Linked DNA regions of Homo sapiens. The protein of the gene in region 7 purifies or fractionates together with the protein of the main gene of each other region. This does not show direct contact. Each region holds a gene or a part of one and is shown on either strand. Other genes may lie near its edges.

Region 1 (3,982 bases), on a different chromosome or scaffold from region 7:
GAACAGGATAGATAAATTTGTCTATTCAACAAATGCATACCACCTGCTAACTCCGCCATGCATTTCGAAGCCTTTATTTTAAAGAATCTCTCTGATAGTCCTTAACTGTTGAGTTGGACTAGAACATTTCTAAGATTTCTTCCAGCTTTAAAGTTCTAGAGTAAACCACAAATGAGAAAACACAAGTAATTTACTCATCAATGCTTCTCAGGAAGGTTCAATTCCTAGTCATCCAGGGAAGAACTTGCCTGTTATCCATGTTGCTACCACTAGATGGCAAAATTAGCCTGGTGATGGCAAATCTAACGCAGGTATTTAAAATGTTTACACTTACTCAGCTGTGAAATAGATTTTATTTTAAAAGCATGTAAGATTCAGCAGGGGCAAAACTTTTAACTGGCTAATAATATACTAAATGGCTGTGACATAGGGAGACATATGAAATTTATTATATTTAGAAAACCCACCTACCTACAGGCCACAGAGCCCATCCTGATGAACTGAGGGCTGATAATGCTGTCTACAGTCAGACAATTTTCTGGCAGATAGTTTTTCAAAAACAGTTGTAGTGCCAGCACACTTCCAGCATGACCTACAGCACTGTTAACTAGTCCCCCAAATGTGCCACAATTTATTTCAATGCTAAGGAAAATCTTGAACCTGCCAAATATTTCACGTTTATCAAATACTTTATAATCCATTACTAAAGGATAAGCTCTCCACTGATTCTAGGCTGAGAATAAATGGCAAGAAAGTTCATTGACAGTGGGCCAATTTCTATTCAAAATATCATACCATAGCACTATTTTCAAGTTTAGTTTCATAAATGGAGACCAAAAAAATGTCTGCTTAAAAAGTTTGGCAGTACTTGAGGGAAAGGAAGATGGTAAAGTTACACAGTTGATTATTTTACAGTAACCCACAACTTCTGTTTCTCATCACAATAAAAAACAAAACCTCCCTTTGTTTGGGGGCTATTTTTCCATGACCTGTACATCTCAATTTGTGCAATCCTATGGATAAATCAAATTTTGGGTGAATGACATTAAAGGAACCCCAAGAGGACTCTTTCATATGCTGCCTTATGAAGTGCACAGCATATAGCTCTAGACTTATCTGTATTTTTCAAGTTGGCCTTTGAGAGCAAAGAATATCTATAAATAGGTATGCTACTTTTCAGGTTTTAAAGCATCTATGGTCACAATGTTTTTAGCTAACCCACATCAGTTTTACCTATACGAAGCTTAACGTTTTTTAGTTATAAAATAATAGCTTGCATACTACTAACTTAACTTTACTGTTTCCTAACCTCTCCATCTCAGATTTCTCATCTGCAAAGTTACCTCAGTGCTAAGGTAAAGTAGCTCTATCCTCCCAAATTCTGAGTCTGATCCTACTGTTAAAATGCAATATGCTTGTTTGATATTTGAGCATTGGGCAGAGGAAAATCATTTACCCAATGGAGAAAATTAACTCACACTAGCAATTGCTTATTTTAACATCTAATGAACACATACTGTATGCCAAGTATATGCTAAACAGTCTCACATTTTAAAACGTGAAAAAGCTTCTTAAAAGCATGCAGTTTTCCCAGCTATCTGGAAGAAAAATGGGGTACAGTATCCACATCTACCACTTCCCTCACTAAAGGAACTCCTCTAATATTTCCTAATAAAAATAAAATTCCATATGATACTTGGCCTCTACCTTCAAGCCTACATGTCTTATTTGGCAGGGATTTTAACATTCTCTCTTCTAAATTATAAACCAGATTCTAAGTATAATTCTCCAGCCAGCAAAATATGACTTTTATAATCCTCTGTGGAGACAAATGTACTTCGGATAAAATAAGAATGAATTTCAGAAGTCAGAAGGGTTAATAAGGGGTGAAAGCCCCCTAGACACAGCAAGCAGCTTCTTTTCAAATCAAGGACAGTGTAAAAATGTCAGAGCAATCAAGCGGGAGTGTTTCTACAACTTTTTAAAAAACCTTTTATTATAGAAAATTTCAAGACTACACAAAAGCACAGAGAAAAGTATTAAGTTGAGAGAAAAGTACAACCCCCATGTGCACATCACCAGCTTCAACTATTGTCAATATTTTGCCAATGTTTCATCCACCATCACCACCCCACACACTTTTTTTTTTCAGCTAGAGTATTTCAAAGCAAGTCAAAAGCTTTTCTACTTCATTTCGCCGCCTCATTTTCTAAACGTTTTCCTATGCTCCTTTTGCTGACCTCCGCAGCCAAGTTGATAAAAGGGTAGAGGGGAGAGGCTAGCTTTCATAGTAACCCCGCCAAAGAGACTTTTCAGGAATGCGTTTCATACCTTTCTCAATGGCATCTGTTAACAATCATAAAAATAAAGAGGGTCCCCTCTGGTACTGCTTAAGCAGAAAGAATTCCATTTATATTCCAATGCAAACATTGTTGTCGTTAATATTAAACTGTGCAGAGGCCGGCACACAGAATTGCCTATGGGAAGGGTGGTTAGTTTCTTTGAGGACTGAAAGAAAGTGTCAAGTTTGATCCCTTTCTTCAAAGTCCTTCAAAGAAGCTCTCCTCGGGTAGGTCCTGCCTTTCTCAGGGAAATTTCTAAGTTCTAAGGTTGTTGGGTTTGGGGAGCTTCATCTTTACCTGCCAGGCTTGTTTGGTCCCCGAGGGCACTGTCAGCTGAGATCAGAGCTCCCGAGGAGGCGGGCGGGGACGCTGCAGCTGGGAGCCTCTCAGCCAGCCTGAGCCGGAGGCCGCCCCGCCAAGGCCGGGCCACAGCACCCAGAGCTCGCCACTGAGACTGCGGAGGGGGAGAGAGCTGCGCCGCACCACGGCCGGGAGATGGGAGGGGAAAGGGGGCGATGACGAGGGGCGGGCGCGGTGGGATGGAGTGGGGGGAGGGGAGGAGGAGGAGGTGGGCAAGAGGAGACGGAGAGGGAGGGCGGAGAGGGGAGTTCCCTGGAGGAACGGGGCGGACCTGGCCGTGTCTCACCCCAGCATTTCTGCCCCCAAGCTGAATTAAGCATTAGGAAAAATTCATGAGTAGGTTCACAGGGGATGCCTGTCCCTGTAATAGTATGCACTCCTTTAACAGTCTCAGGAGTTGTTCAGTTAAGAGTCTCATTCCTCACTGCTTGCTGTTGAGACCCCAGGCATCTAGAAGAACGGAGGGCGTCTCCCCAACCTTATCCCAAGCTAGTCTCCACCGGGGACCTAGCTTCTCTGGATGCACAAGCCTCAGGGTTACCCCGACTTGTACCAGGCGCCCAGGCTGCACACGAGGATGGGGACCTCAGGCTGGGACGCCTGGACCCCCGGGAGCATCCTGCGCTGCCTCCAGGGGGAGCGCGTCAGTTTCCGTCTGCAGGGAAAAGGCTGGTTTTCCTCTTTGGGCGAGTAACCTTTAAGGTCCTTTCCCATCTCAGTCCCACCAGCATTCTAACCTCATCCGTTCTCTCGACCTTTTATTCTCCTTTAGGAGAGGGGTGGGGGCCACATGAGAAAGGAAGCTTCATTTGTTTAACAACAAATTCTAGTGGGTGACAGGTCTGGGGCAAGATGAACTGATACAACGAGAGAATACATAAACAAAAACAAAAACAAAAACAAAAAAACTCGGTCCTGGCCCTAAAGCAGGGAGATCGAGTAAGTGCACAAGTACTTACAACACAAGGTCTTAGCATGTCTTGTAACACTTGGTTCGTTAGTAGGTTATTGCGTATCTCAAGTTCTGTGTACTTTTAATGAGATTATAACATACTTAGCATTGTCCCTCGTTATACTCAACGGACTAGTTCCAGGCCCTCTTCCCCTCCGCCCCCCCATACTAAAATCATCCCATATTCAAGTCCAAGTCCAGCTGTGGGCCCTGGGGAACCCGCGTATAGGAAAAGTCTGCCCTCTGTTTAAGCATTTCTGCCTGAAAATACTGTTTTCTATCCGCTTTTGGGTGAAAAAAAAAATCTGTGTATAAGTGGACCTGTGCA
Region 2 (3,500 bases), on a different chromosome or scaffold from region 7:
ATAAATATGATTTTAGCCAGGCACGGTGGCTCACGCCTGTAATCCCAGCACCCTGGGAGGCTGAGGGGGGTGGATCACCTGAGGTCAGGAGTTCGAGACCAGCCTGACTAACATGGTAAAACCTTGTCTCTACTAAAAAAAAACAGAAAAATTCCCCGGGCATGGTGGCGCGTGCCTGTAACCCCAGCTACACGGGAGGCTGAGGCAGGAGAATTACTTGAACCTGGGAGGCAGGAGTTGCAGTGAGCCGAGATGGTGCCATTGCACTCCAGCCTGGGCAAGAGCGAAATTCTGTTTCAAAAAAAAAAAAAAAGGAATGGTGACCGAGAAGTACTTTTGAGAAATTTATTTTACATGAGATTGTAACTATACTGAATTAATAAAACTTAGACAGTAGAACATGACAAGTAGCAACTAATGTAAGAAAAAAGCTAGAAAGAAAATGATTCTATGCCCCACATTTATGTGGATTTTGAAGACATAAGAAAGTTCAATGAATTGAACAGGCTAATTATCTATAAAATGGAAAACATTTCTATAAATAAAAAGAATTTAATCAAATGTATTAGAACTTACATATTCAAATGAGTATTTTCTTCCAAAAGAGGCTTTACAGGAAACAGTCTAATATATTTTATGATTGTGAAAAACATTTTTGGAATTCTCTTTTAGAAGCTAACTTCAGATATGATTTGTAACCCATGTAAGAAAAATCAAACAAAAACTTTATAATTATACATTATCTTGACCTAAAATCAGTATTTTTAAACTTGAGCATCTATCTTATTTTCCAAATAAGATACTTCAAAAAATAAAATACTTCCCAGAGCTAAAGTTTTTTAAGAATTACTAAAGATAGTTTATAATGTGGTGTAGGTTCTGAAAAAATTCCCAGAAGAAAAATCTCAAAACATTCGGATTGATTAAAATTTCACCAGAATAACTGTAGAGAAAGTAATTTCTTTGAGGGACAAGAACTCAACTATGGCCAGGCACGGTGCCTCACACCTGTAATCCCAGCACTTCAGGAGGCTGAGGTGGGAGGCTCACTTGAGGCCAGGAGTTCAAAACCAGCCTAGGCAACAAAGTGAAACTCCATCTCTACAAAAAAATAAAAAAAAATTAGCCAGACATAGTGGTGTGCCCAGGTAGTCCCAGTATTCTGGAGGCTGAGGCAGGAAGACTGCTTGAGCTTTGGGGTTCGAGGTTGCAGTGAGCCATGAGTGTGCCACTATACCTACATCCCAACCTGGGTGACAGAGTGAGACCCTGCCTAAAAAAAAACAAAAAAAGAACTCAACTGTATATGAACCACAAAAGATCTGTTAAAATGCAGATTCTGATTCAGTAGATAGGGGATGGAGGCCTGAGATTTTAATTTCTATTACATATTATGCATTTTTAATTTTAATATGCATTACCAGGTGATTCTGATGCTGTGATGCATGGATCGTTCTTGGAGAACAGTACCTCCTTTTGAAGAGCTGGCAAGAGCACTAAGATAAGAAGTAGTTGTCAAATATCAAGAAGCTGGTCAGTAATCTTGAAGAGTGGTCCATGCCCATCCTGTCCTTAATTTATTTATTTTTTGGAGATGGGGTCTCACTACGTTGTGCAGTCTGGACCTGAACTCCTGGCCTCAAGCGATCCTTCTACCTCAGCCTCTCCAGTAGCTGGACTACAGACGTACACCACTGTGTCTGGCTTATCCTTTGCTTTAAAAGAAAATTCTCTGTGAGATTTCAAACTAGGATAGGTAACAGTCTCCATTAATGAATAATCCAGTGAACATGGAGTTTTTTTTTAATTGAAATGTTCTAAAATTCATTGTGGTGATGGTTGCACAATTCTATGACTATACCAAAAACTCTTAAATTATATACTTTCATTTTATTATTTTTTTTGAGATGGAGTCTTGCTCTGTCGCCTAGGCTGGAGTGCAGTGGCGGGATCTTAGCTCACTGGCTCACTGTAACCTCCTGCAAATGAATAAATGAATCTTTTTTTTTTTTTAAGACAGTCTTGCTTTGTTGCCTAGGCTGGAATGCAGTGGCATGATCTCGGATCACTGCAACCTCCACCTCCCGGGCTCAAGTGATTCTCCTGCCTGAGCCACCTGAGTAGCTGGGATTACAGGCGCCTGCGACCATGCCTGGCTAATTTTTCTATTTTTAGTAGAGACGGGGTTTCGCCATGTTGGCCAGGTTGGTCTTGAACTCCTGGCCACAAGGAACCTGTCTGCCTCGGCCTCCCAAAGTGCTGGGATTACGGGCGTGAGCCAATGCACCAGGCATAAATGAAATCTTTAAAGAAGCTCAATCTTCTGAAAAAGACTTTACATTTCTTTCATGGTGCTCATGGTCTTTTCATGGTGGTGCTACGATAACAAAATTAAGGACTTGTCTAAACAGGCAAGAAAGGTTTTAATCCCAATCTGGTTTGTAATGTGACTTCTGCTCCCATTTGTTACCTTTCATTTTTGGTAGAAGATGTTGAAATTCTTCTAGCGTATAGGCTTCGTCTACTCCAGTTAGAGCTATTGCTCCATCAGTGCCAGATCGCGGACCATCCCAAAGTTCTCGACTGGGATCTCGCCGAGGCACAAAAAGTATGGCTTTGTGTGATGGTAATTGTTTGCCAGGGAGGCTCTGAAGGACAAGAATGCTATCAGGCTCTTGGAATCCACATAGGTACAGGAAATTGTTGTCTTGGTGGAAAGTATAGGGAATATCGTTGCTCATGTAGTATGTAGGGTTGGAGAGCACAACCACTGTCTGGTCTGTCCCACTCTGCCCTTGAGCTTCCTTCTGGATCAGAGACATTAGTTTGTGTCTGCGAAGTGCATATTCCACCTGAGATAGTCCTGGAGTTACCTCCCCTAGAAATGACAAATAAAAGGGATGCTTTACATTTCTGCAGTGCCAAAGTACTTAAGGTAGTTTAATATTAGATGGAAATACTCAAGTCCAATTGTTCAATTTATGCCAAATCTCCTCACAGCACATGGAGAATTAAGGAGATAACCAGGTTTCAAACTTGTATTCCACTGCAAAAATTTGGAAGAAATGATAGTTGAATGTGGCCCCGCCTGAAATCTGGAATCATGGACCCCTTAGATCTCTTCCAGGTCTTTGGCTCATTCTTTTACTCACTCAGTTATATTCATTGAATATAATTTTTTTTTTTTTTTTGAGACAGAGTTTCGCTCTTGTTGCCCAGGCTGGAGTGCAGTGGCATGATCTCGGCTCACTGAAACCTCTGCCTCTCAGGCTCAAGCAATTCTCCCACTTCAGCCTCCCGACTAGCTGAGGTGGTTCACGCCTGAAATCCCAGCACTTTGGGAGGCCAAGGCAGGCAGATCACCTGAGGTCAGGAGTTCAAGACCAGCCCGGCCAACATGGTAAAACCTCATCTCTACTAAAAAAAACACAAAAATTAGCCATGTGTGGTGGTGCATGCCTGTAATCCCAGCTACTCGGGAGCCTGAGGCAGGAGAATCG
Region 3 (3,500 bases), on a different chromosome or scaffold from region 7:
CAAACAAAAATTAGCCAGGTATGGTGGTGCACATATACGGGAAGCTGAGGCAAGAGGATCCCTTGAGCCCAGGAGGTTGAGGCTGTAGTGAGCCATGATTGTGCCACTGCACTCCAGCCTGGGTGACAGAGCAAGACCCTGTCAAAAAAGAACAAAGAACTGCAGATCTTGATTAACTAGAAAAATCACTTAAAAGAAAACTGAGGGCTAATATGATTGTAGGTGTGGTCACAGAGTGGGATCTATTCAGTTATGGAATAAATTGGGGTGAAGGCAGGTTCAGAGCACGATCATCAGACAAGTGTTTTTGATTAATAAACACTTAATAATAAGCAGTGGGTTTTTGATTAATAAAACACCACACAGGTATCAAAGGAAAAGTAAAGGGGAGGGTAAAGTAAAAAGAAATGAAATTTAGTATCAGACAACAGATTTCAGAGCAAAAAATATTATTAGATATTACCCAGGATCAATAAAAGTCATTTCCTAACAATAAAGGAGCCAATTCTTAACAGCCCTACAATGCTGCTCATTCACAGGAAAAAAAATGGGCAAATGAAAATAATAAATTATCTGCTTTGAGTTATCTTTGGTTTATCGAATTAAAAATAAATTTTTAATAACGGGGAAAATACTTCGTTGGGAGAAAATTCTATATGAATATTTTGATATTTCTGCATGGTCAGGGCTTTCCAAGCAAAGGACACTGACGAGTTGATTGAATAGCAAAGGCCTTGAAAGGCAGAGACAGTATCTCCCTAAAGATAAAGAAATCTGGAGAAATTTAGAAATGTAAACCTCTTTACTTCCTGTTCCTGAAACATGTGCTTATACTCCAGGATAATAAACTTAGTGATACCTTCCCTCTCAACCCTGGAGATTTGCTTAATAAGTAATCTCAATCTCTCTCACTCTCTCCCCAGAGAAGAGGATGGGCAGATGTGCCAGTAATTTCTATTTAAATGAATCTCAGAAGTTTAGGGTTCTTCTCCTTTGGTGCAACTTCCTGCATGCACAGGGATCTCACCTGGTTCTCATCCCATCCCCTCACTCACCGTGGTGACCGGTGCTTTGAAAACAAAAAAACTAGGCCGGATGCAGTGGCTCATGCCTGTAATCCCAGCACTTTGGAAGGCCAAGGCAGGCGGATCACCTAAGGTCAGGAGTTTGAGACGAGCCTGGCCAACATGGGGAAACTCTGTCTCTACTAAAAATACAAAAAATAGCCAGGCGTGGTGTCATGTGCCTGTAATCCCAGCTATTCAGGAGTCTGAGGCAGGAGAATCGCTTGAACCCAGGAGGCGGAGGTTGCAGTGAGCCAAGATTGTGCCATTGCACTCCAGCCTGGGTGACAGAGTGAGACTCCATCACAAAAAAAAAATAATAATAAATAAACAGAAATTAGTGCTAAGGTATTGCTATGGCTGCTGCATTTTGCTGTAATAAACCATCCTTCTCTGTGATCCAAAAAGCCTCATGTCTCTTGCTAGAATATATATATGTATAAAATATACATATATTACACATAATTGTGTAATTTACAACTATAATATAGAATATATGTATATTATATAGATTATATATTATTCTATGTGTATAACATAGCTTATATGTGTATAATTATGTATATGTATATTATATGTGTTTTATATGTATATGTATGTAATATATACACATATACACACACACTCTTGAAAGCAGGGAAACTCTCAGACCCGTCACAGTTTCTGACGTAACATACTTATGACAAAAAGTCACCACAGACCTACCACTCAGCTATCCATGATTCTTATTTTGATGTATTCTCTTCTGAATTTTCTTTCTATAATGAACATCTGGTACTTCTGATCTTTAAGACTATAAAAAGTTTAACTATCAGAGTCCAGAATCAAGATGGCCGAATAGGAGCAGCTCCGATCTGCATCTCCCAGCGTGATCAATGCAGAAGACGGTGATTTCTGCATTTCCAACAGAGGTACTGGGTTCATCTCATTAGGACTGGTTCACCTGGGAAGCACAAGGGGTCAGGGAATTCCCTTTCCTAGCCAAGGGAAGCCGTGACAGATGGTACCTGGGAAATCGGGACACTCCCACCCTAATACTGCGCTTTTCCAACAGTCTTAGCAAACGGCACACCAGGAGATTATATCCTGCAGCTGGCTCGGCGGGTCCCCCACCCATGGAGCTTTGCTCACTGCTATAACAGCAGTCCAAGATGGAACTGCGAAGGTGGCAGTGAAGCTGGGGGAGGGGCGTCTGCCATTCCTGAGGCTTGACTAGGTAAACAAAGCAGCCAGGAAGCTCGAACCGAGTGGAGCCCACCACAGCTCAAGGAGGCCTGCCTGCCTCTGTAAACTGCACCTCTGGCGGCAGGGCATAGCTGAACAAAAGGCAGCGGAAACTTCTGCAGACTTAAACGTCCCTGTCTGACAGCTTTGAAAAGAGTAGTGGTTCTTCCAGCATGGAGTTTGAGATCTGAGAATGGACAGACTGCCTCCTCAAGTGGGTCCCTGACCCCCAAGTAGCCTAACTGGGAGACACCTCCCAGTCGAGGCCGACTGACACCTCATACAGGTGGGTGCCCTTCTGGGACAAAGCTTCTAGAGGAAGGATCAGGCAGCAACATTTGCTGTTCTGCAATATTTGCTGTTCTACAGCCTCCGCTGGTGATACCCAGGCAAACAGGGTCTGGAGTGGACCTCCAGCAAACTCCAACAGACCTGCAGCTGAGGGTCCTGACTATTAGAAGGAAAACTAACAGAAAGGAATAGCATCAACATCAACAAAAAGGACATCCACACCAAAACCCCATATGTAGGTCAGCATCATCAAAAACCAAAGGTAGATAAAACCACAAAGATGGGGAGAAACCAGAACAGAAAAGCTGAAAATTCTCAAAACCAGAGTGCCTCTTCTCCTCCAAAGGATCGCAGCTCCTCACCAGCAATGGAACAAAGCTGCACGGAGAATGACTTAGACAAGTGACAGAAGTAAGCTTCAGAAGATCGGTAATAACAAACTTCTCTGAGGTAAAGGATGATGTTTGAACCCATCACAAAGAAGCTAAAAACCCTGAATTCTACCAGAGATACAAAGATGAGCTGGTACTATTCCTTCTGAAACTATTCCAATCATTAGAAAAAGAGGGAACCTCCCTAACTCATTTTATGAGGCCAGCATCAGCCTGATACCAAGACATAACAAAAAAAGAGAATTTTAGACCAATATCCCTGATGAACATCGATGCAAAAATCCTCAATAAAATACTGGCAAACAGAATCCAGTAGCACATCAAAAAGCTTATCCACCATGATCAAGTTGGCTTCATCCCTGGGATGCAAGGCTGGTTCAACATACACAAATCAATAAACGTAATCCATCATATAAACAGAACCAAAGACAAAAACCACGACTATCTCAACAGACGCAGAAAAGGCCTTCGACAAATTTCAACAGCCCTTCATGCTAAAAACTCTCAATATACTAGGTATTGATGGGAC
Region 4 (4,180 bases), on a different chromosome or scaffold from region 7:
AAGAACTTATCCCCCTACCACTGTAACCTAGTTGAGTGGTAATAACTTCCTTTTTTTGAGGTTAAACATTTATTATTTCGATCTAAAATTATATTATCACCTCACTTCCACTAGAGGGGTCTATCTACCAGTGTAGTTAACTCTAGTAACTCAGGTGCACCTTAAATCCATTTCCAGCTCATCTGTGCCACAAGGCTAGCCTTGGGGTCAGAACAATGTGCTTTAAGGTTGTTCTAGTTTTCAGGCTCAGAAACGGATGAACAGCAAGAAACTGGAGTGCTCCGGTCATTCAGAGGCTGCTGCAGGAGACAAAGGGTTTTTGGCAAAAGAATACAAAGTCAGAATCTCTTAAATATCTTCTGCCCTAGTTGTTTTCAAGACTGAATATGCATCAACCAGGTCCGTTTTTTCTTTTTTTTTCAGATAAGCAAAGCTTTTAAACTCCTGACCTCAGAGGCTCCTCTGCCTCTCTTCTATACTCTGTAATATATAATCTGAATAGCCAAATTGCCACGTTTTCCCAGAAGCAACCTTAACTTGGGCCACTTGGGCGGGTATAGGTCAATATGGGAAAGTTGTTTCAGTGTCCTCTCATTATTCTACCAAACCACTGACAGGCAAAAACCCAACCAACTCGATGTATCAAATTTACTATCCACTGTTTTTGTGCATGATTTCTAATCCAGTTAATTGAAAACCACAAATAACTGGTGGTTAATTTTAGTCAAGAGGTTATTTACTACCTTTAAGTAGTTGCCTAAAATAGGGAACAGTTCAATTAGAATATAGGCCAGACCAAGGAAGATGAACAGAGCCTTACTTTTTAACACTATCTTGTGGGATTTAGCTTCAAATCTAGTATTCAGGGACAAAATGAGGCATGAGTAATAGGATGACTTCCCTAGAAAATAATTAGTAAGATGTTTTTTAAATTTAGAAAAACCATGAGATTGAAGAAGAGAGGAGATACATGTCCCAGCTCACATATATTTCAATCCCTTATTTTAAAAACAGCTCCTGTTTTTGTTTTGGATAAAAGCTGAGCACCAAATTCCCTTTCTGGTCCCCTCATCCAAAATCCTAGTAGACTTCCTTGATTAGAAGCTAGTTCACACTCCTCCCCACCTTTTTTTTTTTCAAACGTAGAGGTGGTTTTTGGAATATGGGCCTCAACCATTACATTCCAGCTTTAAAGTAAAAAGACGTCATGTGACCATCAGAGACTTGGGGCACGTGATTCCAACTGGTATGTGTGGGGCTCCAGCCACTTAGTTGGAATTCACCATGAACTGCATCTCGAGGATCAAGTTTAGGCTCCCCAGTCCATTGTGACATCCAGCAAAGTGGAGTAAGTGCTTGCCCCTCAATGGTTTTTACTTTTCCCTACATTTTCTACCTACTGTTAGCCAGGCTCCCTTCCCTCCTCCCAATCCCTCTTAACAGGCCGGGCGCCCCCAGCATCCCGTCTGTCTGACGCTAAATGGCGAGGCTCTCCAACCCACTTAGCTCCAAGCTCAACCTTCTGCAAAAGTTCAACCTTCTGCACCACTGGGGATATCGTGCAGCTCAGGTGAGAGGCAAGGAGCATCGCATAAGGCTAGAGTCAGATGCCATTAACCCCCACTCCACCTCCCGGGCTGGGATCATCTTACGTCCCGGAGCCCGGCGGTCGGAACCGCCAGCACACTGGAGCAGCGACGGCGGCAGCAACTTTGGGACTGGCGAGAAGCCAGGGCGGGGGTGGTCGGCGTCCCCGGGCCTCTCATTACAGCGCTTAAGTACTGCGGGTGGAGAAAAGTAAACACAGGCAAGTGCAGCTGTGCGGGGAAAGGGCGGGGGGGTAGACTATTACCTCCCTCCCGTCGCCCCTTTGCCTCTCCCTCTCCAAGAGTCGGGAGAGGTCCGGGACTGCCGCCGCCCCGACCGCGCGCCCGGGGCCGCAAAGTCAAAGGAGCTGAAAAAAGGACAGGGGGTGTGGGGCCAGGGGAGAACGGAAAGGTACTGTCCTACTAGCCCAGAGATGTTCTCCTACTGAAAGGAAAAAAAGTGCTTACTCATAGGGAGACTAGGTGCGTTCGCGACGCCCTCGCTAAGGACAAGGGAGGGAAGCAGGCAGAAGGCAGGCAACCCAAACCTCGTGCCTTCCCTCGGCCACGGCCCCCCCTCTCCAGAGCCCCAGGGTCGGCTTAAGCCAGCCAGGTCACCCGAGGCGGGCGTGTGGGGGCTGGAGGAGTAGCAGGCTGCTGGCTCCGGGATTTCCTGAGTCCGGGCGGGAGGGAAGAGGGGATGGCAGTAGCTGGAGAAGGACGACAGAGGGAAGTTGTGCGCTCCCTTTCCACTTCGGGGCCGCAGCCGCGGAGGGGAATCAGGGCAAGGGCTGGCGTCTAGGACTCCAGCCCAAGACTGGCAACAAGTTAAGAGCAACTAGTAAGAAAACACCACTTAATACAGTGAAGTGCAGAAAACGTGTCTGCGGCGGATGCTAGTAGGGAAACTCCCCGTCACTCACACCCATTTCGGTTGCGACCGATCGCCCGGGCGCCCGAGGGCTCCAACTGAAATTTCTCCGACCTCCCTCTCCCCCAACCCCCGCCCCACGGTGCGCCGCACGTTCCTGCTGAGCTTAACCGAGATGCTCTCCCCGGGACCCACTCCTGCCCACGCCCAGGAAACCCGCTCCCCTAGTGCCCGCCGGCGCCTACAAAGCACTTACGTAAAGTCGCAGAGTCCTGGGTCTGGCCCGACTGCCGCCGACCAACCCACTCAGACAACTTCTGCACCTCGGAATCTTTGCAGCTGTGGCTCTAAAGCCAGCGCTCCCTCCCCTCCTGCCAGCCCCCTCCGCCCCTCGGCCGCCGCCATTGGCTCGGGTGGTGCTAGCAGTCGGCCTGGGAACCAGGAAGGGGATTGGGCCACGAGCCTGTCACATCAACTGGGTGGGGATCCAGGAAAATAGGCACGGGGATGGGCACCCAGGAGGGATAGGGACTGCAACTCTGCTGCAGGGAGAGGAGAATGGTCCCCAGCGCCTGAGTCTCCCCTTCCTACTTGGGCTAAGAGGAAGTTAGAAGTCCAACGTGCCTGGCTCGGAGTACACATTCACACAATCTTGTGGGATTAATAAAAAGATGAAAAAGTTGGGAACAAGAATTTGAATGCCACCTATATAAGTCTATGGGGGAGGGGTACAGTTTCTCCCAGAATCGTGAGAAGAATAACGGCATGTTGGGGAACATTCCTAATTACATCTGCAACAATCAGTCCAGGTGCCAAAGGGTGCAGAGGGAAACATCAGCAATCATTCCTTTCCTTAAGAAGTCAAGGGAGAAGAATATGGGCAGGGCAGGGCCCTCAAGCCTTTGGCCTCATGCCAAGTAAATTGTTAGCCCACATCACCTGTCTGGTATGTTTGTCCATGCGGAGAGGGGTTGAGAGGAGGTGGTTGGAAGTACATTGGTTCCACTCTTTTGACCGGAAATGGGTATCAATTCTCATCAGTCTCCTTTCACCAGAGAAAATTTGGAGACATGTTACTACTCCCCAGACTGCCATTTCTTCTCCTTCTCTGCCCAGGAGATGGCTTCCACGTCATAGCTGACCTCTTTCATTAATACACGTGGAGGTTATCTGCATTCCAAACCTATGGTTCATCGTATATCCAAAATCAACTCAGAGAGCCAGAGTTTGAGGGATTTTGCAGGGTCAGGTCAAGAGACTGACTTGTGGGATAGCTGTAGAAGAAAAAGTCTAAGCCCTTTCCTGTTCCAGTCGTAACCATTTTGTTGAGGAAATGTGTGCTTGGAAAGTTCTGTCAACATTTAAAATTAGTTCAATTAAGTCGCATTTTACATGTACCAGGAAAAAATGCTGAGAGGCTTTAAAATGGAATGTTCTTGAAAAGGAACCCCTATTTCATCTGCCATTATGAATTTCCTTAGAGAAATTAATCCGTAGTGAGTGCCAAGGCTTCTTAAAAGGGAAGAACTTGGGGAGTTCATATATTGCCTAAAGGCTAGACTAGCAGAGGACTTGGCACGAGGAAAAAGCCTTGTTAAATATTAATTAATGATTAACCAACTGGAAGAACTTATGAAAGGCACAGGAAGGTGAAAAAGAAATGGGAGGGCAATCATGCTTTCACAAACATTGAATTTCTGTTATGGGAGATTTTCTACTGGTT
Region 5 (3,928 bases), on a different chromosome or scaffold from region 7:
AAGGAATGCTGCCGCAGAACATCTCCCATTTCTGCTATCCTGCTAGTGCCACCCTACAGGGGCAGGACAATACCCTCCAATGCGTGCCCGCCTTCCACATCCGGCAGAGTACTACTAATTGGCAGCACCTAGTCCACATCCAGAACTCTAACTGCAAATGAGGCTGGGAAACATGGCGGTTAGCTTTGGGACCTCCCTAGCCAGAAGGAAGGTGCAGCGAGGGTGGAGCGAGTGAGATGCATGTTCAGTGGTCCATCTTGGCAACCTTTATAGCAACAAAATGGAGACAATTAAATGTCCAACAGTTTACCCCTACAACAGAATTCTATGCCACCTTGGAGAGGATGATGTCATCTGTAATTAGTGATAGGAGAAAACTTCAAAATACAGCGCTAAGTTTTTAAATTTTTTTTAAAGCAGCACAACAGAGGTTACTATATGATTTTATTTTTATTAAAATAATTTTGAAAGATGCAGAGGAAACAATACTAGCAGGACGAACACCGTAATAATGGCTACCGTAGGTGAAGAGATTACAGGTGATATTTTTCTTCTTTTTTCATCCTTTCCTGTGTTTTCCAAGCTTTCTACACTGTGCATACATTCTTTTTGTCCTTAGGACAAAAATGTACTTTGAAAAATGCCCAAATATAAAATCTTCTTGAAGGAACTGAAGAAAGGAGCAGTGAAAGTGGAGGACAGAAATTAGTGAATCCTGGACAAAAAAAGTGAGGGAGAGGCGAGGCAGAGAAGGGGTTAAGGGGAGTCTCAAGGATGGCAGTCGATTAAGCAGCGTCTTGCAGCGGGGAGAAATGCAAAGTGTAGTTGGGGTTCGGTCTCCGAAAACTTTGCTGTGTGACCTGGGGAAGCCCCTGCCCCTCTCTGGGTATCTCTGTTTCCGCTCCCAAACCAGTGCCTTAGGAGCCTAGATCTGAGCAACGTGGACACTGGGCTTGCGGAGACCCGAGGGAGGGAGCGCTGAAGCGGTGCGGGCTGCCGGGGGTAGAGGGGCGGGGACCGGGAAAGACCGGGCGGGGCGAGGGAGGAGCGGCCTTGGCCGGCGACAGGACGTAGGCAGCGCCCCAGGCGCAGGCGGAGCCTCATTGGCCGCTGAGCCCCGGGCTGCGCGGAGGCGGGACCTGCGGCCAGCCCTGGGCGGCCATGTGGACAGAGCTGGGAGGGCCGGAACCAGAACCCAAGCGTGATCCTGAACCGGAGCCCGAGCCTGCTGCAGGTAACTAACGCTGGTCTCCCCTCGGCTCCCTCGGGAAGCCGCAGCTCCTGGCTCCGCGTGGGGGCTTTCCTCTCTGGGCCGCGGCGTCCGCATCTGGGGGCTGGCCTTTCCGCCGTTGCACTGTAGGACTCTCTCCACGTCCCCTAATCCCATCCCCCGCCTCTGGGTGACGCTACAGGAGCCCCGAGGACACAGACGCCCCCAGACCTTACCACGTTAGCTCGACCTCAACACTCCTGCCCACTCGGCCCACTTCAACAGAGGGCCCCTGACCATAGCCCAGAGGCTTGGACAAGCCCAAAGGTTGCGCCCTTTCCCCCGCAGAAGGGGTGAGGTGGGCGCCGCTGCAGTTCCCGCGGATAGAGAAGGTCCGGTCCTTCCCGCTGTGGGTGAACTGTAAAAAATTGCCTGTATTCAGGAGGATATGCAAAGCTAGGTTTGTGGAAGTCTGGGGTGAGGCTCCTATACTTTCTTGCTGTGTGTCCTCGGTGAGTCCCTGAACCTCTCTGATGCCCAGCCTTCTTCCAGAATGGGGGTCATCATCAACCCTGACCACCCAGGGACTGCAGAGAGGCTTGGCAAATTTCCCGTGAGAAGACAGCCTGCAAACTGTAAAGCATGATGCTCTGTGAGCTGTGATCTTCCTATCAGCAAGTGGAGGCCCCAGCAAGAACCCCATATAGGCCCCAAGAGTAGGAACGGCCTTGGTGTGGCTGCAAAGGTTTGCCAGCCTTGGCCTATGACCACCTCTCCTGACTGCTTCACCCCTCCAATCCTTACCCCATGGGTTGGTGACTCCCCTTTCCCCTACCTCCTTTTGGTCTCCTCACCCTCAGAGCCAGGCCTGTTGGTGGCAAGGGGGCTGTGTCCCAGCATATGGCAAAGTCCTGAGCTAAATGGAACCCTGGGCACCCCTGGCAGATCTGCTGACTCAGCTTCCCCCTGTGGGATATGATGAGGTTTCTCTTCAAATAATCTGATCAATCTTTTATTCTTTAATTCTTAGTATCCCCCCCTTTTTTTTTTTCATTTTTCTCCTTTTTGCCTTTGTTAGATGCCCAGGCATGCCACAGTACCAAGCGTTATCAGTACCAGCTCACATTCCTTTGCTTATTTGGAAAGAAGACTAACTTTCTAGCTCATTACAGACACCCTTTCCCCTTTCTCTCCACTTTCTTTTACGTGCCCACTCTATCTAAAATAAATCAAATGTTTAGCCAACCGGGATTAGTTTAGATTGTACGACCTGACCCCAGCCAATGGGGAAAGGGTACAGGGGCAGGACTTGCATCAGGAATAAAGGCTCTCGTGCCCCTTTGTTCAGGTGTGCTCTCATGGCAACTGGCCAAGGAGGCATCCCTCTGCGCAGAAGTAAAATTGCTTTGCTAAGAATCCTGTGTTCGAGTGTTCAATTTCCTTAGGATTTTGAGCATTATTCCTAACACCCGCAAGGGGAAGGGAAACTTTCTTGGTCAGCATTGATTATTATTATTTTTTTTAGATACAGTCTTGTTCTGTTACCCAGGCTGGAGTGCAGTGGCACAATCATGGCTCACTGCAGCCTCAACCTCCTGGGCTCAGGTGATTGCCCCCACCTCAGCCTCCCAAGCAGCTAGAACTACAGGCATGCACCACTATGCTCGGCAAATTTATTTTTGTTTTTTTGTAGAGACACGGTTCTTGCTATGTGCTCAGGCTGGTCTCAAACTCCTGGCCTCAAGCAGTCCTTCCACTTCGGCCTACCAAAGCGTTACCAGCGTAAGCCACCACGCCCATCACATTGATTTTTATGGGGCCGGGGACCTACATGGAGCCTTGCTTTCCTGATTGAGTTTTTTGTTCCTCTCCCTGCCCAGGGGTGGAGGGTGAGAGGCTGGGGGTGAAGGGACAGGCAGGTGCAATTCCATTTTACCGCTGGGCGGAGCAAGACTCATGAGACATCAAAGGCAGAGAGATTCAAATTCTGACTGAAGAATAACTGCTTCAACTAATCTGGGAACACTACACTCTGTTTAATTTTCATTTAATATGTATTATATGCCGTTTAAGTTTTATAACAGTAGTTGTTTTAACGAAGTCTACACTCTTCAGAGTTGTAGCTTTTCTTCTCAGCTGCCTCCTGACTTGCTGCACCTCTGGGAAAGCTGAAAAGGGATGCTGAGACCTGTGGTTGGGGGATGCTGGGCTAGGTCAATTTCTGAGGCACGGCCAGTTCTGATGTCCTGAGTGGAGCTTGCCAGGGTTTTTATATGCAAGACATCATTCAACATAACCCCATGAGGCATTTCACATATGGGGGAACTGAGGCACAGAGGTGAAATGAAGCAAGTCCCTCTCAGAGAACAACCATCTCCAAGTCCCTTTGATTTCTACTCAAGTCTTAGGTCAATTCTTAGACAGCCTTTGTGGCAATTTCAGTGTTTTCTCAGTGTATCATTCAGTACTGTGTGTTGAGCCGCTGCTCTGTAGCAGGCATACCTCTAGGCTCGGGGACGTAGCAGTGAATGGAACAGAAAAATAAGTTCCTGTGCTCATGGAGCTTGCATTTTACTGGGGGGAGACAGACAAACATATAAGCCTGTAAAGATAGTATTTGGGATGTGAGATAGAGAAGGAGTAAAGCAGGGTAGCGGGGATAGAGAGTGTTGGGGTGGGAAGGGTTGCAATTTTTTAAAGGGTGGTCAGGGAAGGCCT
Region 6 (2,604 bases), on a different chromosome or scaffold from region 7:
GGAAGGGAACGTCACACACTGGGGCCTGTGAGGGTGTGGGTGGTTAGGGGAGAGATAACATTAGGAGAAATATCTAATGTAGGTGATGGGTTGATGGGTGCAGCAAACTACCACGAGAGGTGTACACCTATGTAACAAAACTGCATGTTCTGCACATGTAACCCAGAACTTAAGGTATAATAATTAATTAATTAATTAATTTTTAAAAAAGCCCTCAGATCAGTTTTGCATCTTTGGAACAGGGAAGTAGAATGAGAGTCTTCAGCCCTGAACCTGGCTTTCCTTGAACGTGGCCTTCCAGAATTTAGTAATTTTTTTTTCAGTAGTGGTATCGACATCACCATCTTACACTCTTTACAATCCCTAGGGATGGATATATTTGTCTTTACGTCATGTCATCACAATGTTACATACAACTTTGTACCAACTCATTTGCACTCCCCAAGATCACAAAGAAATCATTCTTGGTTACTCAATAAAATAAATTTGAGAAATCACTGTTTCCAATAACACAATGGGGAAAAGGCAAACATTTATTTTTATTTGCAAATGCAGTTTCTGCCAATAGTTAGTGCTCACAAAACCTTTTAAGCTACAGTAACTTTTGGTAAACTCAATGAATACTTTAAAAAATACCCGATGGTAAGAAAATTACAGAAAAATTTCCATTACACTGTCGAAAATGTTTGGAATCCAAAATCCACTATTTTCTGCAATAGTTTTTAATGTTTATTCTGGTTTAAAAAAGATTTTCTTTTTCTTTTCTTTCTACTTCTACATAGTCCTGGTTAAATTAATACAATCTGTCTCATGAACATTTAGGACTGCCATTTTCTGGATTTAGATTGTTTTTATTCTCACATATTTATATTAATGCTTTAATATTTTACATAAAACATTGATTTGCTGTTTTATGAAGCAAAATCATAGATCATATTTATGGAGGCATTTCCAGTTTGAAAGAAAACTGAAAATCTAATCAGTAGAAGGTCATTTTATGCCTTTTTTCCTTTTTAGCAGTGATAAATAATTAGCAACCTATTAATTACAAAAATTCTTAATTATGCTTAGAGCAACCAGAGCGCTATCACAAATTTAAATTCATATTTGTTACAGTATGTGAAATAGTTAAGAAAAGCCTCTGTTTTCCCAGTTTGGTAACAAATGGCTTTTGTCTGATGCATAATTAATAGAAACTAATGATGACTATGTAGCTCTTCCAGAGTTTTAAAGGCAAATCTATATTGGCCTACAGTTAACATGCAAATTCATCCAACAAGCAACACAAAATGTATTGTAGTAGTCATTCATTTTTATCAACATTCAAGAAGATCTAGACAGCAGCACGACTCTCCTATGTCGGAAACACATTATAACATGGGCACAACTGAAGTCAGATCATACCTGGTAAAATACCCTCTTGCTAATTCATCCTCTAGAGTCAGTTCAGACTTCCAGCACGATACATGAACAATAGCGATTAATACTGTGGTACAAAGGTAAATATAGACAAGAGTTTGGTGTGCTAGCATACAGAGTTTTAAAAATGGTGACAAATGAAACCAAACGTCTTGCCCTGTTCTCTCCTCTCCCTTTGTGAGCCTGGAATTCTCATGGTCTCACTGAAACATTCTATTTTGGGAACTGAATCCAATGATCCTAGCACTGAAATTGCTCCCTGGGAGGGAAATTTGGCCACAAGGGAACATTGTACCCATTTGAGAAAGGGCACTGAGGGAAACATTGTGGTGTGCAAAAGAATGGTTTGCTACTAGAGGCGTTCATGGAAAATGTGATCTTTAAAAATATTTAACTTTATCCCAAGGAGTGGTATACTGTGGCTCAAATTTTATTTCATTATTTTTGGTTGGATTAATGAAACGTGCACACCATCACCATCACTCTTAATTCTTCTTCCACCAAATAAGACACTTGTTAGGATAAGAAAGAGATTTTACTAAAGCTGACGGTGATTGAGAGTCATTCAGTATTCAAAGTTCCTAAAGAATCATTGGTTCTCTTAAAGGGATAAAAAAGTAGGAAAGGCTTTGTTCAAACTCCTCTAGTAAACAAGTATTACTTCAACTGATACAATGGCTACATGACATCAAAGTACTATAAATTATCAAAACTATCGTACAGAAAAATTACAAATTCGTTGCAAAATACATTATACTGCTACCATTAAGAAAAAAGTGCTTTTTGTTTTCCTTTCTTTCTTTTTTTTTTTTTTTTGCCAGAAAAGTATTCTTTCAATATAGAAAATCCTACATGTTACCCTGCATGTGGCTAGGATATATCATAACGGAGTTTGTACTGAGTCCTTCTGATTTGCTGGATGAAGGGCTGAAAAATATAATAATGACTTATTAAAGCCGTGCTCCAAGTGACCACACCGGCTGTCAGTGGAGAGATGCCTGTTTAAGACACAAGAAGATGCCCTGGTCTGTTGAACCCTGCCGGTCATCACGCTGTCCCACCAATTGGCTGGTCTAGAATGCACAGGCCTTTTGCATGTTCTGTGTTTCCTTTTGTTCTCCTGAATTATTCTCATGTCCTCATCTAGCTTTGCCACCTACACGAATCCTCTGCTCAGTGATGCCT
Region 7 (3,500 bases):
CCTCCCACAGATATCAAAGGATGACTGTACTTAAATTTATTCTGTAATTTTGACATAAACTTGTGGTTGAATTATGGGAAAATTTTTGTTGGAATTGTTAACATGTAAAAAGAATAATTCCAACTATGCAGTTACATTTTTTTCCCAGTTGATGTTATTTTTTAAAAATCTCCTTTTAAATAGGCATTCTACTGGAGATACCAAAGTTCCCTTCTGTCTTCAGTCCTGTGTAAAACCTTTGAAATATGCCATTGCTGTTAATGATCTTGGAACTGAATATGTGCATCGATATGTTGGAAAAGAGCCGAGTGGACTAAGATTCAACAAACTATTTTTGAATGAAGATGGTAAGAATTACATAAACATTGGTTGAAAAAAGAAATGTCTCATTTTCCTATGTAAATCTAAGTCGTTTTAAACATTTTTTGATTAAAATTAAAAGTATTTGTCATGTGATTTCTATATAATCCATTGAGAGAGTTTCATCACCTACTTTTAAAAATGATTATTTTAGGCATCTCATACCACTGGGAAGTGGGCTAGGGAGAACATGAACTTCTCTCTTCATAACCACCTTTAGGGAAATATAGCGAAATCTCAAAATACATGAGATTTGCTTTAAAATAATTTAGTTAAGGCAGCTGGGAGTGCTGGGTATGATTATTACTATATGTTGGTAATTATTGCAGCTAAATGATAGGTGCATGGGTGTTTGTATATTATTCTATCTATTATATTGTATATAGTAGTTGAAAGTTTTATTGTGGCCCTGGTTGAGATAGTGAGGATTATTATTTTTCAGTGAGTGTTTTTACTTTTTATCCTTATAACATTAAAAAATTTGAAAGAAATGCTTTGTGTTTAATGCTTGGTTAACAAATCTTTTTACAGGAATTCAAAAGAAAAGGGGAGGACAAAAGTAGTTAGTTTGATCTGATAGAGATTTTAAGTCTAAACATCATTTAGCTGAGTGCAAACTAAGTTAAACTAGTCCCATGGTTTGGTTTCTGTTTTTTAATCTTCTAAGCATATGCTGTGTTTCTGATTGATGAGTTAAGATATAGAATTGAAGAAAGTGAGAGCGAAGTTTGTAGTAATGGCTGTGAGAGATACACTTTTGTACTTTTTTTTTCTGCTGTATAAAAAATGAAATGTGCCTTATACTCATTATTTTATTAGTTTGTAAGATGAAGTCATAAGACTGGTATTTTCTTATGCTTCTCATCCTATTTATTTTGAGAGCAGTTACATTTTCTTTCCCATTTTACCGTAACCTTTTTATTCTGATGCTACGTTTGGTTTTATGGACATTACTGTAAATTAACAACTTCAATAAGGACATCATATGCAGAAGCACTTTATTTACTAAGCTCATTGACATCTAGATTTAATATTGAAAGAATTAATACTGTTATTCTAAAAATACCAAATATTTTAAAAGAAAAATTTAATACTTTTCCATGAACAGCAAAGGAGAATAGACATGTCTAGTGAATTGATGGATTTCGAGGGAGATATTTAAGAAAAAACAAATATAGTAATTTGAATGTTTAGAGGATTTCAGAAACAAAAAAACAAAATGGGCTTGGAGCAAATGAAATTAACAGTATAAGTAATGAATTTTTTTGCCATATATATTTATGGTTTTAGGAATCATGAATTATTGATACTGTATTCTATATAAGAAAAAATGACAAATCAGAGATTTAGAATTGTTTATAATAAGAATAAAACATAAAGTTTAACAAGAGATTTTGCCTCGATATTCATAGACGTTTTCTAAGCCTGAGCCAACACCCTGAGTCTTGAAAGTAACAGTAAATACAGGCTTCACTATATTACACCTTCCTGAATTCTGATTAGAGCCTGTGCTCTTGAGTCCTGATTTAGTTTAGCCCAGCAAAAACAATTTGAAGATCTCGTTCATATTTAAAATTGCAAGGGTAGATTTTTGGTGAAACCATACACTTTTTGTGTGTGTATGTATATATGTGTGTATCTAAAATAATAAATTTTTAAAAAATAAATATATTACTGTTACACCAGCTTTATAAGATTGTGATGATTTATTAAGACTAATAGGGATATGGTAAATAGAGAAATTGTAGTAGTTTTTTTTTTTTTTTTGAGATGGTGTCTGGCTCTGTCCCCCAGGCTGGAGTGCAGTGGCATGATCTCGGCTTACTGCAAGCTCTGCCCCCCGGGTTCACGCCATTCCCCTGCCTCAGCGAGTAGCTGGGACTACAGGCACCCGCCAGCACGCCTGGCTAATTTTTTGTATTTTTAGTAGAGATGGGGTTTCACTGTGTTAGCCAGGATGGTCTCGATCTCCTGACCTCGTGATCTGCCCGCCTCGGCCTCCCAAAGTGCTGGGATTACAGGCTTGAGCCACTGCACCCGGCAGTAGTTTTTAATAACAGTAGTTTTTTTTTTTTTTTGAGACGGGGTTTCACTCTTGTTGCCCAGGCTGGAGTGCAGTGGCGCAATCTCGGCTCGGCGCAATCTCGGCTCACCGCAACCTCCGCCTCCCGGGTTCAAGCGATTCTCCTGCCTCAGCCTCCCGAGTAGCTGGGATTACAGGCATGTGCCACCACCCTGGCTAATTTTGTATTTTCAGTAGAGACGGGGTTTCTCCATGTTGGTCAGGCTGGTCGCGAACTCCCAACCTCAGGTGATCTGCCTGCCTCAGCCTCCCAAAGTGCTGGGATTACAGGCGTGAGCCACCACACCTGGCAATAACAGTAGTTTTAAAATGTTTGCAACATAGAAAGTTTTGGTAGGAGGTGGCTGATATTTTTTATCATTATAAGTGAGCAAACAAGTTACTTTATGGAGATGTCAGTTTTGCAAACTACCATCTCCCAGGGAAGTCTTTTTCTACCTTGTAGTGATCGGGTTAATCAACAAATTATTTATATAGCTTTCCTTGTCTGTATTGTTAACAGCTCTGGAGGGTACATGGGCCTTGCTTCTTGGAATAACTTTTCTGACTACAGGATACAGAAGGCAATTACATATTTCTAATACATAATGGGAGAAGACATACTTAAGCATTGAATACTGTTAGTTGTATTATCTTACAAGTATGTAATTGACAGGTGCCAAAATGTATGTGCTGATTATATGTGTGGAGGATTGAGAAAAAAGAGGAGTTGAGTTAATTTACATGAGGATGACAGGACTGAATTGATAGGATGAATTGTGGATGGTTGGGAAGAATGTGAGAGGGCACTGCACATTTTTTCCAACCATCCTCAATGGGCACTGCACATTCTTCGTAACCATATATATCCCAACCAGATGGAGAATATTTTCTCTATATCTAGAGAATATATTGTAAATGTGTGTAATGTCAGATAATTGAGTTTCCTTAACTCCAGTTTTTATTTGGCACTGTAAAATTCCAATATAATACCGAAAATATAAATATCCAAATTAAATTGGAAATCCTTTTTAATATTTTTCGTTCTTTAGTATATGTATTAGCAAACTTTGCCTCA

Evidence for each region.
Region 1: the proteins of GLS (region 7) and PRSS35 purify together in Homo sapiens (co-immunoprecipitation; one large-scale study listed by IntAct). This does not show direct contact.
Region 2: the proteins of GLS (region 7) and XPNPEP3 purify together in Homo sapiens (co-immunoprecipitation; one large-scale study listed by IntAct). This does not show direct contact.
Region 3: the proteins of GLS (region 7) and ALDH9A1 fractionate together in Homo sapiens (co-fractionation; one large-scale study listed by BioGRID). This does not show direct contact.
Region 4: the proteins of GLS (region 7) and PLS3 fractionate together in Homo sapiens (co-fractionation; one large-scale study listed by BioGRID). This does not show direct contact.
Region 5: the proteins of GLS (region 7) and ALDH1B1 fractionate together in Homo sapiens (co-fractionation; one large-scale study listed by BioGRID). This does not show direct contact.
Region 6: the proteins of GLS (region 7) and PAK5 purify together in Homo sapiens (co-immunoprecipitation; one large-scale study listed by IntAct). This does not show direct contact.

Annotation. Positions count from the first base shown.
Region 1 is NC_000006.12:83,511,352-83,515,333, reverse strand, and holds the start of PRSS35 (inactive serine protease 35 precursor), read right to left. Parts: upstream 2,801-3,982; 5' UTR 2,640-2,800; intron 1-2,639.
Region 2 is NC_000022.11:40,881,148-40,884,647, reverse strand, and holds part of XPNPEP3 (xaa-Pro aminopeptidase 3), read right to left. Parts: intron 2,879-3,500; coding exon 2,471-2,878; intron 1-2,470. UniProt on the Homo sapiens protein: Catalyzes the removal of a penultimate prolyl residue from the N-termini of peptides, such as Leu-Pro-Ala. Also shows low activity towards peptides with Ala or Ser at the P1 position.
Region 3 is NC_000001.11:165,688,563-165,692,062, forward strand, and holds part of ALDH9A1 (4-trimethylaminobutyraldehyde dehydrogenase isoform 1 precursor), read right to left. Parts: intron 1-3,500. UniProt on the Homo sapiens protein: Converts gamma-trimethylaminobutyraldehyde into gamma-butyrobetaine with high efficiency (in vitro). Can catalyze the irreversible oxidation of a broad range of aldehydes to the corresponding acids in an NAD-dependent reaction, but with low efficiency.
Region 4 is NC_000023.11:115,559,794-115,563,973, reverse strand, and holds the start of PLS3 (plastin-3), read right to left. Parts: upstream 2,801-4,180; 5' UTR 2,714-2,800; intron 1,571-2,713; exon of another isoform or gene 1,444-1,570; intron 1,349-1,443; exon of another isoform or gene 1,243-1,348; intron 1-1,242. UniProt on the Homo sapiens protein: Actin-bundling protein.
Region 5 is NC_000009.12:38,391,574-38,395,501, forward strand, and holds the start of ALDH1B1 (aldehyde dehydrogenase X, mitochondrial precursor), read left to right. Parts: upstream 1-1,128; 5' UTR 1,129-1,234; exon of another isoform or gene 1,235-2,860; coding exon of another isoform or gene 2,861-2,992; intron 2,993-3,928. UniProt on the Homo sapiens protein: ALDHs play a major role in the detoxification of alcohol-derived acetaldehyde. They are involved in the metabolism of corticosteroids, biogenic amines, neurotransmitters, and lipid peroxidation.
Region 6 is NC_000020.11:9,536,870-9,539,473, forward strand, and holds the end of PAK5 (serine/threonine-protein kinase PAK 5), read right to left. Parts: coding exon 2,593-2,604; 3' UTR 501-2,592; downstream 1-500.
Region 7 is NC_000002.12:190,904,821-190,908,320, forward strand, and holds part of GLS (glutaminase kidney isoform, mitochondrial isoform 1 precursor), read left to right. Parts: intron 1-183; coding exon 184-347; intron 348-3,500. UniProt on the Homo sapiens protein: Catalyzes the first reaction in the primary pathway for the renal catabolism of glutamine. Plays a role in maintaining acid-base homeostasis. Regulates the levels of the neurotransmitter glutamate, the main excitatory neurotransmitter in the brain.